Linked DNA regions of Homo sapiens: region 2 is linked to region 1. The links come from fine-mapping of genetic effects on gene expression. A gene starts in region 1. The other region holds a variant in brackets. All regions are shown on one strand. Distances are between the middles of the regions.

Region 1 (4,380 bases):
TAGAGGCTAATTTGCATCTCATTTACATGCTCTTCATTTCCAGGCAAAATGATCTGATAGCAAGCACCCTCAACCCTTTCCTTCCTCCCTGAGAGAGCAGGCTGTGCCTCCCTTCCACTCAGTCTACACACACACACACTCACACCCCACTTTAGGCTGGATTAGTCCAGCCTCTACAAACACTTGGCTGGCCTTTGCATTGGCCTTCTAGACTCAACTATGATACACCTTTAAGAGGGCTTCTTGTAGCTGTTTCTGGGAAGCAGCATCTGGTCAGCTCCTCAACTCCTGGCCTGGAGAAAAGATCACTCTGCCCTGGAAGAATCCGAGCTGCTTCACACACCCCATCTGAAGCACATGGGAGAGACCTGGCCGACTCTCCCCTTTCCAGATCCTCCCGTTGCTGGGAAGAGGAAACAGCCCTTCTCTCTCCTGGCCCCGAAGCCACCTCTGGGGAATGGCTGGGGTCACAGCCAGAGTCTAGGAGAGCTGTGGAAGGGATGGAGAAGGGGAGACTGGGCTGGGGACAATAGCAGGAAGCCTTTGGGCTGGTCGCCCGCCCCAGTCCACCTTCCTCAGAGGGAGCAGGGTCGCGCCAAGGAGCCTGTGGAACCGGAGCTTTCCTTTCTCCAAGCCATTTCCCCCACTCTTAGCTCTTAGCCCCACACTCAGCACCTACCCTCCTTCCCACCCAACCCCCAACCAGGACAATCCAGGTGTCTAAAGCCTCGAAAAGAGGTGGGCCTAGGGCCAGGGGCTCGACCTGTCTCCCCCTCACCGGATCCGGGGCTCCGAGGAGGGGCCGGTAGCAGAGTCTGGGCCGGGACCGGGTCCCAGAGCCACGTTAGCGAGAGGAGGGGCTGGAGGGGCCTGCAGGCGCAGACGAAGAGGGGATAGGAGCGGGGGTTGGGGAGCGGAGGCGGGTCTCCCAGGCCAGGGAAACAGGGCCAGAGGCTGAGAACCGACGAGGGCGGGCCTGAGGCCGGCGCTCAGTGGGGACCGTGGGCTCAGGAGGCAGTTGCCAGCTCGGATGTCCTCCTTGGGAGACCTCAGTCTAACAAAGCCCCGGGCCGAGCGGGCTGAAGGAAGGAGATAGGCGCTGGGACCGATGTTGCTCGAGGGCCCCATTCGCCGCCTCTTTGCACGAGCCAACCCTTCAGAGGGTGCTCAGATTCCGGCTTGCACAAGGACAGAGGAGCACCCGTGACACAAAGTCCGGAACGATGCGTCCCTCTTCCCATCCCTTCAGGGGCGTCAGGAGGGTCTAGTTCTCCGTGGGTCTCGGAGCCCTAGTTTCCTTGCTGGGAAAGCAAGGGGCCAGGTTTTCCACGCTCTCTACGGAGCGCGCCTCAAATAATCCCTTTTCGCGCTTCCCAGTCCAGCGGGATGCGACTCGACGAAAGCCCAATTGAACGAGGTGCCCAGACTCTGCTCTCACCAGTACAGTTACGGGGCTCGGCCACTGTCCCTCCTTCCTCCCTGCACCCCAATTTCGTTGACCCTCTCCGTCAGCCAGGCACACCGGGCGCCGACACCTCCCTGGTCCCCTAGCGCTTCAGAAGCTTGCCCCCCGCCGGCCGCGCCCTCCTGCTCCCTCCCCGCCTCCCCGCAGCCCCTTCCCTGCCCGGGGTACTTGCTCCAGGATTCGGGTCAGCGGGATCGAGATCGCCGCGGGCGGCCAGCGGCCACGCGCTGCGCTGAGTTCGCAATCCGTGGTTGTGCTCAGGCGAGATGCGATGAGCGTCCGAATTGGATGGTGCTTGAATTTGGGTTCCAGGGCGCTGTCGGGAGAGCCCTGGGTCCAAGTCCAGCCGCGGATCCGCGGAGGAAAACAATGCGACCGCCCGGGGCTCTGGGCTCGGCCCCAGTGGCCCCGCCCGCCTCCCAGCCGGGCCCACCTCCTGCCCGCCTTTGGGTCGCCGCGACTAATCCCGCCCTCGGAGGGCGGCTAGACACCGCCTTCTCGTCACCTCTCCGCCAATAGTGCTGCCCGGGGAGGGGCGCCAGGAGCACCGTCCACCCAGAGGGCCAGGCCGGGAGGCTGAACTGGAGACCAGAGACAGACGCGAGATGGAGAGACCCACGGACAGTCGCCGACACCGGGCAGAGGAAGAAATACATACAGAAGCAGAGACAGGCTGGCACAGGAGAGGCTCTGGGGAGAAATTTCCCAAGAGAGGAAGAGGAGCTGGGAGGAGAAACAGACAGGAAACCTGGGAGCCTCGCGGGGCTGGGCTGGGCTGTCAGAGCCTGCGCGATCCGTCCTCCCTTCCCCTCCTATACGGCTTGGGCGACCTTGCTCCCGAGGGCGCATCCCGCATCTCCCTGACTCTGCCCCCAACTCTCTGTTGCTCCTCTCTATGCGTTGTCCCTCTGTCTCCTTATTTCTCCCCGTAGGCCTCCTCTGGTTCGTCCTGACCCGGATAAGGAGGCCTAGCATGCGCGTGGGGGCTGGAGGCCTGGGAAAGGAAAGGAAGGTGTCAGCAGGAGGTTTCCCTTGTTTCCATGATCTCCTCCCCTCCCACCTCTACAAAGCAGCATGAGTTTGGGCCACTATGGCAAGAACTAGCTAGCAGTCAGGCTGTTGGGTAATGGAAGAGGGCAGGTGAGAGAGGCTGAAGCCAAAACAGATGTGGAAATCAAGACTAACTGACTCAGAGAAAGGCACAAAGAGTAGCAACGCTAAGACTTGATAAAGTAACCCACACAGCCTTCCTGCCCCACAGACATACGTCCCACCTTTCCTCAGAGGACCGTGACATCCCTCCAAACAGCAAAACTGCCCCTTCTCCCTCCCCACCCTTCATAAAGCCCCTGGGAATGTCAGTGAGGAGGAAGAATAAACTACTACAGACAGGATTGCTTGGTACCTTGGTATTGCCTGGTAGGATTCTTCTCTATGTGGGGCTGGGACAAAAGACATTCTCAAAATTCTCCAGGAAAGTGGGTGGCCTGGGAGACACTGGCATTCTCAGATAGTTTTATCTGACTGAACACTTCTACCCACATCTTGGACTCTGGACTAGAGGAAAGGAGGGGGAAGGGGTTTGCCACTTTAGGCCAGCCTTAACTGGACTGTGATCAGGGAGGGGAGTATCAACAACTAGGCTAAGCCCCACAGCGAGTACACAAGAGACCTAAACATACACACACATGTGCACACGCACATACAGAGAAAGAGAGAGACAGAGAGACAGATTTAAGGCCAGGTGAACCAGTAAGATGAACAGTAACTCAGTAAAGTCAGATCTAAAAAAAATAGAAGAAGATAAACAGGGACAATATCTACACAGAATTAACGGCCGAGGGATCTTGGGTCCAAGGCAATTCAACAAACTGTCAGACAGTTGGGGTTGTTTTAAAGGCTGGAAAGAAATTTTCAGAGAAAGACACCTCAAAATACAGAGGCACTGAGAGGTTAAAAGAAATCTCCTCAGCTCCTAGCACAGGGTTTAGGTACTCAGATACATGCTTATGGAATAGATTAGTGAGTGGGGATTAAGGTGTAATTCATTTAAAGTTTTAGGACCCAGCTCAAATCTCAGTTCAATCCAGTAAGTATTAAACACTTACTTGAGACACAATCTACTACACAATCCACTGTGGGTTGTGGTTCCAGACTTTAAGAAAATGATAATATATTTGAATTAAAATAAGATTTGCACATACTAAACTATTAAAAAGTCTAAACTATTAAAAAGACAGTACTAAATATTAAATATTTAATAGTACTAAACTATTAAAAAGACAACACCAAGTCTCAAAAGAAAAGCTACATTGAACATAAATTTCCAAATGTGCAAAGAAGACAATAAATATTCTCCGAAGACTGCACAGAAAGATGCTGGATACATTTTATCATGAAGGACAGGAAAACTTTGGTGGGAGTTGGCTTGGTGCAAAAGAAGAAAATGTTCCCGAGGGACACAGCTTCAGCAAAAGCTTTTACTTGGTTAGCAAGGAGCCTGCAGCATGGATAAAAAAAAGGTCCTGTGAGGCTGGTGTGTGGGAAAGGCACTAGTTAGGAGCAAGGGGAGGGAAAAGGGGAAGACAAATTACAGAAGGCCTGGAATGACTAGGTGAGCTGGTTAAAATCATCTGACAGGAGTAGGACGTCATTTTAAATTCTTGAAAAAGGGTGCAACTTGTATTTTTTTATTTTTTTAAGCAAGAAGACAGAGACCTACTAGCAAGTAAACAAGGTTTAAAGGTGAGGGGAGAGGGACAATCAGACAAGGGTGATGGGAACAGATTTAGAAAGAAATACATGAATCTGAGAGCTATTTTGAAGGACAAATCAAAATGACTCTCTTGGCTGGGCGAGGTGGCTCACCCCTGTAATCCCAGCACTTTGGGAGGCCGAAGTGGGCAGATCACCTG
Region 2 (4,345 bases), 92 kb before region 1:
CAGGGCTTCAGCTGAGCTCCTCTGGCTAACCAGTAGTCACTTGATCAGTCCTGCTGCCTTGACCCCATCTCCAGGAGGGGCTATGGCCAGAGGGAGTAGAGGGAGTCCAGCCCCCAAGCCTTGTGAGGCACTGTTAGGCAGATAGGGAAAAGAGGGGTCCTTAGATCACTGGTTCAAGGAGGGATCTGGTAGGGGCAGCATTTCTTCTGGGCTGGAAACAGAATGGGGGTTTCAAGATGGCAGAACCTGAAATAAAAAAAAAGTTTTTCTTAAAGAAGATTAGCCTCAAAGAAAACCAAGGCTTTAGGAAGAAGGCACTACCTAGTGCAGACTTTAAGCTATTTCCACAGTGTGTTCTTTACTTCTGTCTGCACAACACCCTCTCAGTCTTTCTATATCCTACATTCTTTTTTTTTTTGAGATGGAATCTCACTCTGTTGCCCAGGCTGGAGTGCAGTGGCGCAATCTAGACTCACTGCAACCTCCACCTCCCGAGTTCAAGTGATTCTTCGGCCTCAGCCGCCTGAGTAACTGGGATTACAGGCGTGTGCCATCATGCCTGGCTAATTTTTGTACTTTTAGTAGAGACAGGGGTTCACCATGTTGGCCAGGCTGGTCTCAAACTCCTGACCTCAAGTCATCTGCTGACCTCGGCCTCCCAAAGTGCTGGGATTATAGGCGTTAGCCACCATGCCCGGCCTAGATCCTACATTCTTGAATCTTCCCTTCTAATTCCTCCCTATCTCCCATTCTTTTTTTATATTTTGAGATAGAGTCTTGCTCTATCACACAGGCTGGAGTGCAGTGGCGCGATCTCAGCTCACTGTAACCTCCGCCTCCCAGGTTCAAGTGATTCTCATGCCTCAGCCTCCCAGGTAGATGGGACTACAGGAGCACGCCACTGTGCCCGGCTAATTTTTGTATTTTTTGGTAGAGACAGGGTTTTGCCTCGTTGGCCAGGCTGGTCTTGAACTCCTGGCCTCAAGTGATCCACCCATCTCGGCCTCCTAAAGTGCTGGGATTACAGGCATAAGCCACCATGCCCGGCCACACCTCCCTTTCTTGCATAAGATCAGGGTTCTGAGTCAGGGTATCAGGTTGTGCTGTTATGGGGGCTGAGGTGTTAGATGGGTTTCTCTAATCACTCACCATTCCATTATTGGAGCTATAAGCCCCTAGAATTGCTCCATGGCCTATCTCGGTTTCCCTTGGATCTCATCTGCTCCTGAACTGCACCTGTCTGTAAAAAAACAGATGCGAGACACCTTCGTAAGTCTTCATATCCTACAGTAAGAACTCTACTTTGTGCCTTCCAGGGAAGAGGCTGACGCCATCTCCTTGACAATAGCAGCCATCTGCTAACCACCATTCCTCCTAGGGGAGTCTCAATGCCTCTTTTCACACTGGCCTTCATGAGGATGAGGTAAAATGGGTCTTTTACTAATAATATTCCCTCACAATGGATTCTCCCCTATATATCTGAGTTTCAGGATCTGAGAAAAGACTATCTCTAGACCCATTTCCCTTATTTTGGGAACAGAAGTGCATCTTAGACATTATTTAGGATGAAGGTACTCAGCTTTTTTCCTGTCCCAACACTCCTAAATATATGATTTACTGTGGCACTGAGATAGCAGTTCTTAATTAGGAGAAGGGAGAGTTATAAGTTTTTGGAAAAAGCCCTCCAACTATTAAGATATATATACCCCCTACCCCAGTGAAGAACAATCTGCTAAGTTGTAAAGATGAGAGAACCTAGGCCCAGACACCTAAAATGCCAGGTCTCGGGTTTCCACAACTGGTGACCAGGACTAGAATCCCAGGTTTTTACTTCCCCATTGAGTATTTTCATATGTCCCTAGCTTGAACTTTCAAAAAGAGGGAACGGTTATAGACCTCACCCCTGTATCAACCTCTCCCCATTTCCTTGTTACCATGGCAAGTCCATCTCCGGCCCCCATCTCCCCTGAGCCAATGTGAGTCAGGTGAACAAAATTCATTGGTTCCCCAATCATGGTCCGGTCAATCCGTCTTCTCTTCTTCTTCTGCTTGGAGAAGATAAGGAGTCATGTCTTAAGGCCCCTCCTCCAGTCAGCACGGAGGAAGGGAAAAGAGTCTTCAAAACCACTGAAAAGCTAAGGGCCTGGTGGGAAGAGGGGATGTGGCATTTTAACAGGGAAATCACTAGGGCATGAAAGGCAAAGCTG[GAAC/G]AACAAAAGCACACAGAAGACATGAACCAGAGTAGTGAGGGCAGTGGCCTGCAGAGTGAACACTGGACAAAGAAAGGACATGTCAAAGTCACCTCTGACTGATGATGAAATAATGGGGAAAACTGACAGGTATGCAGCTCCACCTACAAACCCCACCCAGCTCAGAATGGACAGGAACAGGAGGTAATAGCTAGGACTATTCACTTCTTCCATCACCCAGTCCCCTTTGTTCCACATATACAGCTGCCTGACCATAGAAGCTCCTGACACAGAGGGAGGCAAGAAGTGTGCTTTTTTAGATGGCAGATCCTAGATGGTGTGGCTACCTCACAGCACACAGTAACTGACTGCTCTTTGGGTTAGGATGGGGGGTGGGGAGACTCACCGGCTGGGGTTTCTCTACCACACAGCAGCCCAGTTTGTGCCAAAATTCACTCATGTTCCCTGATGGTTCCAGCTTCACTCCGCTGTCTGAGGCCCCAAAGGGCTCTTTCCCTGGTGTTTGGACAACCCACTCCTCACTCTCCCCAGATACACCACCACCCTGGGTTCACTCAGCTGGATGGGTCCAGACAAAGTGGAATCCCTGGAACCTTTAACTGAGCAGTGAAGGTCAGTGTCTCAGAGCCTGAGAGATGAACAGGACCAGAGAGAGAGGTGGGCAGGCAGGCACAAGGTTATGTCTTCCTCAGACTCGGAACCCTGGATTAGAAGAAAGTAAAAAGAAAGATCAGTGAGAAATCTCCCCCTCCCCCAATCCTTGAGAAACCTCCTGATGAGCCTATATCTTCCCAGTCCTCCCTGAGAGGCCCTAGACCTGTACACCAACACTCATTCCCAAACACTATGAACCTCAGTTTGACTCTAAAAAAAAGGAACAGAACCAAAAGGACACCAAGGGGTTAAGGAGCAGTGGCTGGTGGTACCAAGGGAGAGGAAGGGGGCTAGAAGCACTTAGAGTTAAGAGGATGGGCGAGGACCAAAGGATAGTGGCAGAAATTAGCAAAGTTTGGGGTGATACAAGCTCCAGCTCCCTTCTCTCTGAGTTTAGGGCAGAAGGGGAGGGGCATTTAAGTGACTCTGAAGAGGAAATAGTGGTTTTTTGTTCTCACAAACAAGGTCTCCACCCTGTCCCTGCCTTTTTTCTTACCTTGCCCTGAACGCCTAGAGTTTCTTTAAGAACAGGAGAGCCCTGGACCACTGAGGTCCTAGGAGACTAACTGGCAGGTTGGCCCTCAGGAAAGACTTTCTACAATAAGGAATTTCTTCCCTCTCTGTTTGCTGCCCTATTCCTCCTGATTTCCCTCCAGTGAAATCCAATCCCTCCCAGAAGCCAGTCAGCAGCAGTTCCTTTATTACCTGACCTTGAGATCCTTCCTGAAGGCTGTGTACATTCTGTTTATCTGTGTCCTGTATCACTGCACTCCTGTGTGTACACCTCTGTTTGCACATGCGTGGCATGGCCATATCTCCACGTGTGTCCAGTACAGATCATCTGTGTACAGGTTGTGGGTACATGTGCCAGGTATCTTCTGTCCCATGAGGAATATTTTCCCCACCGTCCACATGTCCTATCTGCCACTCTGCTCTGCCTCACACCCTATAGGGCCCAGGCTCCCCTCCAGCTGTGACCTGTTCTCCCCTCCCTCCTCACCAATTCTATCCTCAAGCTTCATCAGTGAACCAGACATAAGGAACTTTCCAATAGTACTAGTGTCCAAGGAAGAACTTCCTCCCTTCTCACTACTGCCAGCCAGGGTAGGACACATCTGGGTTTCTTCTTAGACTCACTTGCATTTCCCCAGTCCTATAGTACAGACAACCTCAAAGATTCCAAAAAGGGCAGTTTCATAAATATGACACTTTAACATGAACAGGAATCTCCCTTTCTTGCAGGCCGGGAACCCTGATGCTTTGGCACCCTAGACTGATTTAAAAACAAGAGATAGGCCGGGCGTGGTGGCTCACGCCTGTAATCCCAGCACTTTGGGAGGCCAAGGTGGGCGGATCACCTGAGGTCAGGAGTTCCAGACCAGCCTGGCCAACATGGTGAAACCCCATCTCTGCTAAAAATACAAAAGATTAGCTGGGCGTGGTGGCGGATGCCTGTAATCCCAGCTACTTGGGAGGCTGAG

Which allele goes with the higher level. Positions count from the first base shown, and alleles are read on the strand shown. Sizes are in standard deviations (SD) of each study's normalised expression.
In carriers of allele GAAC in region 2, the expression in fibroblasts of the gene that starts at base 1,836 in region 1 tends to be lower than with G alone (small effect, 0.26 SD a copy in GTEx).

The links. PIP is the estimated chance that this variant, and not a neighbour inherited with it, causes the effect. A credible set is the group of variants that fine-mapping cannot tell apart.
Region 2: its variant is the best candidate, but not a certain one, in a credible set for the expression of SEMA6C in fibroblasts (GTEx, PIP 0.57).

The regions. Positions count from the first base shown.
Region 1 is chr1:151,144,796-151,149,175 of GRCh38, forward strand. It overlaps SEMA6C (semaphorin 6C), which reads right to left and starts at 1,836. Exons shown (of 19, transcript NM_030913.6): 1 at 1,638-1,836. It also overlaps a transcript of LYSMD1 not described here. RefSeq lists silencers at 1,584-2,043, 2,254-2,313.
Region 2 is chr1:151,053,082-151,057,426 of GRCh38, forward strand. It overlaps CDC42SE1 (CDC42 small effector 1), which reads right to left. Exons shown (of 5, transcript NM_020239.4): 2 at 2,596-2,912; 3 at 1,935-2,045; 4 at 1,150-1,240; 5 at 1-246. The coding sequence starts at 2,649. The coding sequence ends at 1,166. Among named protein-coding and RNA genes, the nearest start is that of CDC42SE1, 4.4 kb to the right of the region's middle. The variant GAAC/G (reference allele first, on the strand shown) is at 2,208.